Linked DNA regions of Homo sapiens. The protein of the gene in region 1 purifies or fractionates together with the protein of each later gene. This does not show direct contact. Each region holds a gene or a part of one and is shown on either strand. Other genes may lie near its edges. The genes, in order: AFM and PRMT8.

Evidence for each region.
Region 2: the proteins of AFM (region 1) and PRMT8 purify together in Homo sapiens (affinity purification with mass spectrometry; one large-scale study listed by BioGRID and IntAct). This does not show direct contact.

What each region holds. Positions count from the first base shown.
Region 1 is NC_000004.12:73,480,523-73,484,845, forward strand, and holds the start of AFM (afamin precursor), read left to right. Parts: upstream 1-1,222; 5' UTR 1,223-1,253; coding exon 1,254-1,341; intron 1,342-3,418; coding exon 3,419-3,467; intron 3,468-3,735; coding exon 3,736-3,868; intron 3,869-4,323. UniProt on the Homo sapiens protein: Functions as a carrier for hydrophobic molecules in body fluids. Essential for the solubility and activity of lipidated Wnt family members, including WNT1, WNT2B, WNT3, WNT3A, WNT5A, WNT7A, WNT7B, WNT8, WNT9A, WNT9B, WNT10A and WNT10B. Binds vitamin E.
Region 2 is NC_000012.12:3,494,129-3,497,949, forward strand, and holds part of PRMT8 (protein arginine N-methyltransferase 8), read left to right. Parts: intron 1-3,821. UniProt on the Homo sapiens protein: S-adenosyl-L-methionine-dependent and membrane-associated arginine methyltransferase that can both catalyze the formation of omega-N monomethylarginine (MMA) and asymmetrical dimethylarginine (aDMA) in proteins such as NIFK, myelin basic protein, histone H4, H2A and H2A/H2B dimer.

The DNA.
Region 1 (4,323 bases):
TGACGTATTTTATTTATTTATTTATTTTTGAGACAGAGTCTTGCTCTGTCCCCCAAGCTGGAGTGCAGTGCGCGATCTCGGCTCACTGCAACCTCTGCCTCCCAGGTTTAAGTGATTCTCATGCCTCAGTCACCTGAGTAGCTGGGATTACAGGCGCATGCCACCACTCCCAGCTAATTTTTGTAGAGACAGGGTTTTGCCATGTTGGCGCAGGTTGGTCTTGACCTCCTGGCCTCAAGAGATCCACCTGCCTCGGCTTCCCAAAGTGCTGGCATTACAGGTGTGAGCCACCACGCCCAGCCAGTTATCTATTTTTTTTTCTTTTAAGACAGTGTGAATTCTTAAGACCTAGTCTCTTAGCATATTCTAAGCATACAATACAGTATTATTAGCTGTAGTCCATGTGATGCATTTGAACTTACTCATTCTACGTAACTGAAACTTTGCACCCTTTGACAAGCATCTCCCCATTTCCTCTACCTCCTGCCCTTGATAACCACCATTTTATGCTCTGTTTCTAGTTTGATTTTTTAGATTCCACATATAAGTAGGATTATGCAGTGCTTTTCTTTCTGTGTCTGATTTATTTCACTTAACATGATGTTCTCCAGGTTCATCCACATATTCTCATATGGCAGAATTTCCTTCTTTTTAAAGATTAAATAGTATTCCATTGTGTGTGTGTGTGTGTGTGTGTGCGTGTGAGATTTATTTATTTATTTAGTTTTTTATATGTTGACTGACAGGTTGTTTTCATATTTTGGCTATTGTGAATAATGAGGTAATAAACACCGAAGTGCAGGTATATCTTCTTAATTTTTTATTTTTAATTTTTGTGAGTACATAGTAGGCGTACATATTTATATATCTTTGAGATACTGATTTCACTTCCTTTGGATATATATGCATAAGAGAGATTGCTTGATTATATCTGTTCTGGCCCTTTGTTCCTTTAACATTTGCAGTATTTTAAGTTTTTTTTTGGTTGTCTATTTGATTAAGTATTGTGCATACTTAGCCTGTGGACTTTTGTTCCAACTCAGTAGATTTTTTCCAGCGAAACACAAAGGTAATTTTTTTTTCTGGTTAATATTTAGCAAGAATTCTGCAGAGTGATCAAAAAAATCAAATACTCAGTATTTCAGAAATAGATTAAATAGGTTACTTTTTTACTGATAATGTGAAAGAATGATATAAAAACTTGATTTTCCTCAACAACATTACTTTCTTTTGTAAATGTGGTTTCTACAAAGATGAAACTACTAAAACTTACAGGTTTTATTTTTTTCTTGTTTTTTTTGACTGAATCCCTAACCCTGCCCACACAACCTCGGGATATAGGTAAGAAATTTACTTGTATATCAGCTAAAGCATGACCAGTTAGGATAATTTCTATTTTTAAAATTTTGTTTTCTTTCAAGTTAATTCTTTACTTGCTTTTTTCACCCTCTCACTAATTTACATAGGCTAACCAGTTATCCAAAACTAACCTTTTCAGAATTTTTATTTTGATGGTAATTTTTATATTACCAAGTCTATATGAAGAAAGAGTTGTCACATCTGAAGAATAATCAGCAGTCTATGACAGGACAGAAAGTGTTGCTGGGAGATACATTTGGATTTTAATGTTGGTATTTCTTGCATATATGTATAGTTTATGGTAACAGTGGAACAATAGATGTTAACTGGGATTTTTCTGGAACCTTTGGTTGTCCAACATATTTCCCAACTATATCTTTATGGAATGCAGAACCTAGTTCCTCCTTCAACTGTACAGTTTGAACATCCCTCCTGAGCCTGGCCAAGGCCATCTCAGTCTGTAGGAAGGGATGACTTTTTTTATTTCTTCCATCCAAAGGGGAAATATTTTGAACCTCATATGTCTAGAGGAGGTGTCTTTTTCTAATCCTTTTTGGCCTAGAAGGAGCTCCTTTCTTTGACTTGAACAAATGTGCCCTAAGCATGGCAGTGGCCCTGAAGGCATGGATCGTGTCTTACGTGTCTTACTCAATTTGACATGCCCCTACAATACCAGCTAGTGAAGACTGGTCATTTCTGAGTTTTCCTGCTCCTTTTCCCTCGTAACAACCTGTTTCAAAATCTTGATTTTTTGCCTCTTTAATATCTTTTGTATCTATATTTTCCTTTTCATTTCCATTACTCCTACCAAAATTTAGATCTTGCTGATTTCTCAGTGTGACAGTTGCAAAGTCTCCTATGGCCTTCTTACTTTGTCCCATCCACCCTTCTTTTGCCCATTTATTTGACAATAGTTCTTTCTACCTTTTTCTATTTGTCTGGCACTGTGGAAAGTCCCATGACATTACATATACCACTACCTGACTCGTATTTCTTAGTGTATAGAAATGATCAGATTACTATCCTATATAAACATTTTCCAGGGCTCTCCATGTCTTCCAAATGAAGCCCATACTCCTTAGCTTTATATACAAGACTCCTATAATCTGGGCCCAGGTTCTTTCTATCCTAGGTACCATTATTCCTCTTTGTGACCCACTTTCTCATCAAAATAGATTGACTTTCCCTAAATACTTCTCAAGATTTCTTAATGCATTTATTCACATCATTCTCTCTCCACACAGACAGACAGGGTTTTTCATTTTTCCGTCAGCTGAATCTCTTACATTTACTCATGCTCAACTCATATCTCACTCCTCCTATAATCCTTTTTTTTCTTTCTTTCTCACCCAGGATTCATAAAGCATTCCCAACTTAATCCCATTCTAAATTAGATTATTGTCACATGCACGAGTAACTTCTATTAGAGAGCAGCTTAGGAACCTGATGTCAAGGGGAGATATTTTAGTCATTGTTGATTGCTTCACAGGGTCCAGCACAACACTTTGCAAAAAATAAATGTAGCTTATGTGAACAAACATAAATATGCTCCAATTAGTGTATGCTCATTGGGAGGGAATCCATGATTTTAGGTGGATCTGGAGATGACCTAAATAGCTGTGACTGAGTAGCGCTAAAAACTATGCTGACCACCAGCATGCTACAGCATCTCTCATCAGGCTCTGTTATGGCATTGAATCAGCCATTAGTTAATCTTCATATCACTTCTCTAGTCATAAATGATAGACATTTAGCATGGTAATGTATTTGACATTTCTATCTGGGGAGCCATCAATGGCAAATTTAAAGTCTAGTCAGATTAAGATTTATTTAGGTCAATTCAATTTGGTAAATATTTCTTGAACACATAATCAACAATGACTAAGATTTCCTATTTTGTTCACATGACTTATTTGTTTCTTGTTAAATATGCAAAATTATCTCCTGTCATCAGTGGTCTATTTTGTATTTTATACACTTAAATGCCATGTATAGTTATTTATTTGAAAAATGTTAGAAAACCATGCTATGTAATAACCTAAATATTCTTGCTTTTCAGAGAACTTCAATAGTACTCAAAAATTTATAGAAGATAATATTGAATACATGTGAGTTGTGCTAAATACTTTTTGATGATGATTTTTAAAATGATATATTCTAGAAATGTTAATGCTTCTCAAAAGTAATTTAACTAAATAGAAGCCATATCCAAGAAGACAACTTTAATTATAAAATTCAGGCAAAGAAGTTGTAAAATTTATAGCCATTACAATAGATAATTTCCTGAGGCTAGTCAGGATGTTCCTGTGACTTTTTCTTGACCATAAATGGAAACTCTGCAACTGATCTTTGTATACCCCATGTGAACTGTTGCAGCACCATCATTGCATTTGCTCAGTATGTTCAGGAAGCAACCTTTGAAGAAATGGAAAAGCTGGTGAAAGACATGGTAGAATACAAAGACAGATGTATGGCTGACAAGACGCTCCCAGAGTGTTCAAAATTACCTGTAAGTAAATTGCTTGTGTTTCTTTTCCTTTTATCTTATGTCTTTCTTTCTCTTTCTTTCTTTCTTTCTTTCTTTCTTTCTTTCTTTCTTTCTTTCTTTCTTTCTTTCTTTCTTTCATTCTTTCTTTCTTCTTTCTTTCTTTCTTTCCTTCTTTTTTTTTTCTTGAAACAGAGTCTCGCTCTGTCACCCAGGCTGGAGTGCAGTGGCAATCTTGGCTCACTGCAACCTCCACTTCCTGGGTTCAGGCAATTCTCATGCCTCAGTCTCCCTAGTAGCTGGGATCACAGGCATGCACCACCATGCCCAGCTAATTTTTTTGTATTTTTAGTAGAGATGAGGTTTTGCCATGTTGACCAGCCTGGTCTCAAACTCCTGACCCCAAGTGATCCTCCCAACTTGGCCTCCCAAAGTGTTGGGATTGCAGGCGTGAGCCACTGTGCCCTGCCAATTGCTTG
Region 2 (3,821 bases), on another chromosome or scaffold:
GTGGGGAGCGTGGTAGTGGTCCTAGTTCTGAATTCCACACCTCTTTGTCAAGCACCGGCTCTGTACCAGGAAAGCTAGGTACCCAAGTTCCAAACATGAGGACCACCTGGTCCCTCCTCTGGAGGGGCTCACAGTCTCATGGACAACTATGATGGATAATCCTGTAGCCACCTTTTCCTGCTTTTTGTTGTTTATCTCATTCCATCCTCACAACAATCCTGTGAGATAAGCAAAGATTAGTATTCATTTCTTATACCCATTTTATAGTTGAGGACACCGAGGCTGAGGTCAAGCAATTGCTGAAAGTCTTCTGGTGGGTTAAGTCAGCCCTGAAACACAGACTGCCCCCACTTCTGATTCATTGCTGTTTGCCCTGCCCTTGCTATTTCTAACAAGATGCCATGTGTGAATGGGAGTAGATGAGGAGTGGGCAGAGAGGAATACTTTGGAAGGGAGAGATGCAGTGATGGAGGTGGGCAAGGATGGGAGAAAGTGTTCGTTCAAAAGCTAAAGCTACGGAGAGATACTCTAACCATTGGGCAGGAAGGGAGCAAGTGAAGAATAAAACTACTTACATTTTGACCAAAGCCTCCCTCCACAAAGCGAAGTACCCAGCTAGGGTACGAGAGCATCAACATCACGTGCTTGCTGGACACTGTTGGCAATGGGTGGCCCTGGGGGCACTCTTCAACCGCTCTGACCTCAGTTCCCTTCTCTGTTAACTTGAGCTGATTCTCCTCATGGAATAGGGCAGGTATGGGTATAAGGAAATGCCAGGACAGCCCCTGGCACATGGCAAACACGCAATAGTGTTAGTTCCATGTACGCTTTCTCCTGATCACTCAGCTATGCTTCTCTTCCTCGGCTAAGGGAATCACCATTCTGCCAGCCTCTTCTCCCTCTCCCCTGTTCCCTAGGTGTCATGAGAAACCTCCTCTGTGGCCTTCTGGAACATTTGCAAAGCCTCCAGTCCCACTCTCCTCTTCAGCCCATTGTCAGTGCCCAAGACACATCATCTCACCTCTGCCCTCACTAAGGCACTTTCCTCTGAACTGTTTGTCCTCTTCTCTAATCAAGCCTCATAATCCTACTGTACTGGATCAGCTTTCTGAAGCACAAATCTGCTCATGATCAGGCATCTCTTTAAAAACTTAGGATGCTGTCCTATTGCCTACAGGACGCTAGATAAAGCCCAGTTTCCTTAGCATGGTGTGCAAAGCCCATCAATACCTGCATCATGCAATTCTTGGAAAAGACCTCCGACTGCATATGTGAATGCTTCTGTGCATACTCTTCCCTCTGCCTGTGCCGGTCTTTCCTCCTTCTTCTCTCTGGAAAACAATCTTTTTCAACCTGCAAGACCCAGCTCAAACGTTACCTCCTCTGGGCAGGCTTCCCAGATCTGCCATTTATCCTCTCTCCCCAGGGAGGGGCATTACCCTTTCTTATGTGTTCCTAACGCCTGTCTCTCACTTTTCCTATTGCAAGATAATTGGCTTTTTGTGTGTCTATTTATATGTCTATTAGATAATGCACTTTTTTTTGAATTTGTGGGCCTGACACACAATAAGTAATAAATGTTAATAAATGTTGACTGAATTGATGTATGTGATTGTGAACAAACTCTTGAGCCTAATGGGCTTTAGTCACTCATGGCTTCCTGGAAATTGGGATTCCTATCTCCCACCCCACCTGTCTGCTGTACTTAGTTGCTGTGAACCTTTGAAACTCAAAATGGGTAAATATTCTGGGAATCAAGGTGCTGAAGCCAGTCAAATCATGGGTACATTTTGGTTATTCATGTACTTATTCAATATTCAGTAATTATCGACTCTTACTATGGAGTGCTCATCTGAATAGCAGATAAATGGATTAATCACAATGCCCAATTATGAACCATGGGGGATAATGGACCCTCCTGAGCTACTGCTTGCTTTACTGATACTTGGTGAAAGTCTGATGCATGATGCATTATTTATGGCGATGACTCCCTGATTAGGGTTTTATCACCTCAAAGGAGAGCCCCCAGGAGTTGGGAAACAGTTTTAGCAAAGAGTCACTTTGGAAACTGATATATATATATATATTTTTTTTTTTTTTTTTTTTTTTTTTGAATGTTCTGTTGACTTGCTGGCCCAGGGAGAGGGAATAATTACAGGTTGGAAAAAATCCTACAATGTGACAATGAGATTAGGGGTTGCAGTGAGTTATGGGGATAACTGAGCTGACTTCTTGCATGGTGTATCTTGGTGGTTTTGGCTAATAGATCTTTCTCCTCAGGAAGTTACTTTCAGCTGAAGAATGTGGTCCCATTATTACAGGGGTTAGGGAATTGAGGAAGAGGAGGAACCAGGCATAGTTCTCTGAGGATGGTCTTCATCTATGTCTGTTTCTGCAGAGTGTGTACACTAACTAGTAGGCTATGGAGACAGACTTCCTGGTTTTCAATCCAGTTCTGGACCTAGTAGATGTGTTGCTACATTGAGCAAGTTGCTTAATGTCTCTGGGCCTTTTAAGATTGTTGTGAAGATGAAAAGGGTTAATTTATGCAAAGGAATTAGAACATTGCCTTATACATGGTGAGTTCTCAATAAGCGTTTATGATTATTATCCTGCTAGCTTTTAGGAGTCTTGCCAAAAAAGTGCAAACTGAAAGTATTCTCCCACTTTCTCATTTCTGTAGCTGAAATGATCCATAAAACCATAGTCCATGTGACTTTTTCCTCCCTCCGCAAACACTGATTTCAGTCCTTAAGTGAGCTCAGGAGAATTAAGAAGATACCCAATTTTTTTTTTTTTTTTTTTGCCTGGCTAATTTGGCTTTTCAGAGTCCTAAATTGGCTTTTGGCTGTCAAAGACAGTGAAACACAACACTCCTGTCTCCAATTCAGGAGTGGGTTTCATTTCCTCCTCTTTGCTAACTGCAATGTGAAGTGATTATCACATACCAGTGTGGAACATGCAAAAATCTGTAAAAACAGTCCTTACACCTTGGAGTCTACTCTGCCAGCAGGGGGAAAATGGGCAGCCTGAAAATATGTGAACAGCCAAGGTAACTGAAAGCAGCCTCTGTGTGTGAGAAGCAAGCAGGTGGTGCTGTTGTGAACTGGCTTAGTAACAAGATAGAGTGAGCACAGGCAAGAAGGGACCTCTGAAAGGTCATTCTGTCCATGCCTCTGTCCCTGAGAACCACCTAACCGAAGATGCATTGTTGGCCACTTGGTCTCTTGTTAAAAAGCTTCAGAGAAGGGAATTTCCCCAAACTCCTCGAGTGTCTCAGTAGTCGGAAGTTCTCCCTGAAGTCTGAGCTCAACCTCTTCGATTGCAATCTGAGTCACCTTCGTTTATGTTATTCTAAAAAGAGATGAAAACTGGCTGCTACCTTTTCATTTGGGGTTGTCTCACCATTTTTACTAGTTTTTGTTCCAATTGATTCCAATCCCTTTTTCTGATATTCTGGTATTAGACTTCTAATAGGAATAGCTAGGAGAGGAGTGTTTGAGATTTGCCTCTCCAGTATTATCCAGCCAAAATAGCCACTGGATATTTCACACATCAAATGTCTTTTCTTACTTCACTTGTTATAAGAATTCCCTCAAGCATCACAGTTTTTCCCATATTTGTAATGAGTGGCCCATAAGTAAAGATCTCTTTTTAAAGTGTAATTTTATATTGAGCAAACAGCTTGATGTGCGTATTTTCATAAAGTCATAGAATGTTAAAGTTGGGTGGAAACTCAAATCACTTAAGTCAGGAGATAGGAACTACTTGTCCAATATCACAGAGCTCTTCCGTGTTGGGGTCAAGATCCTGTGGACTCC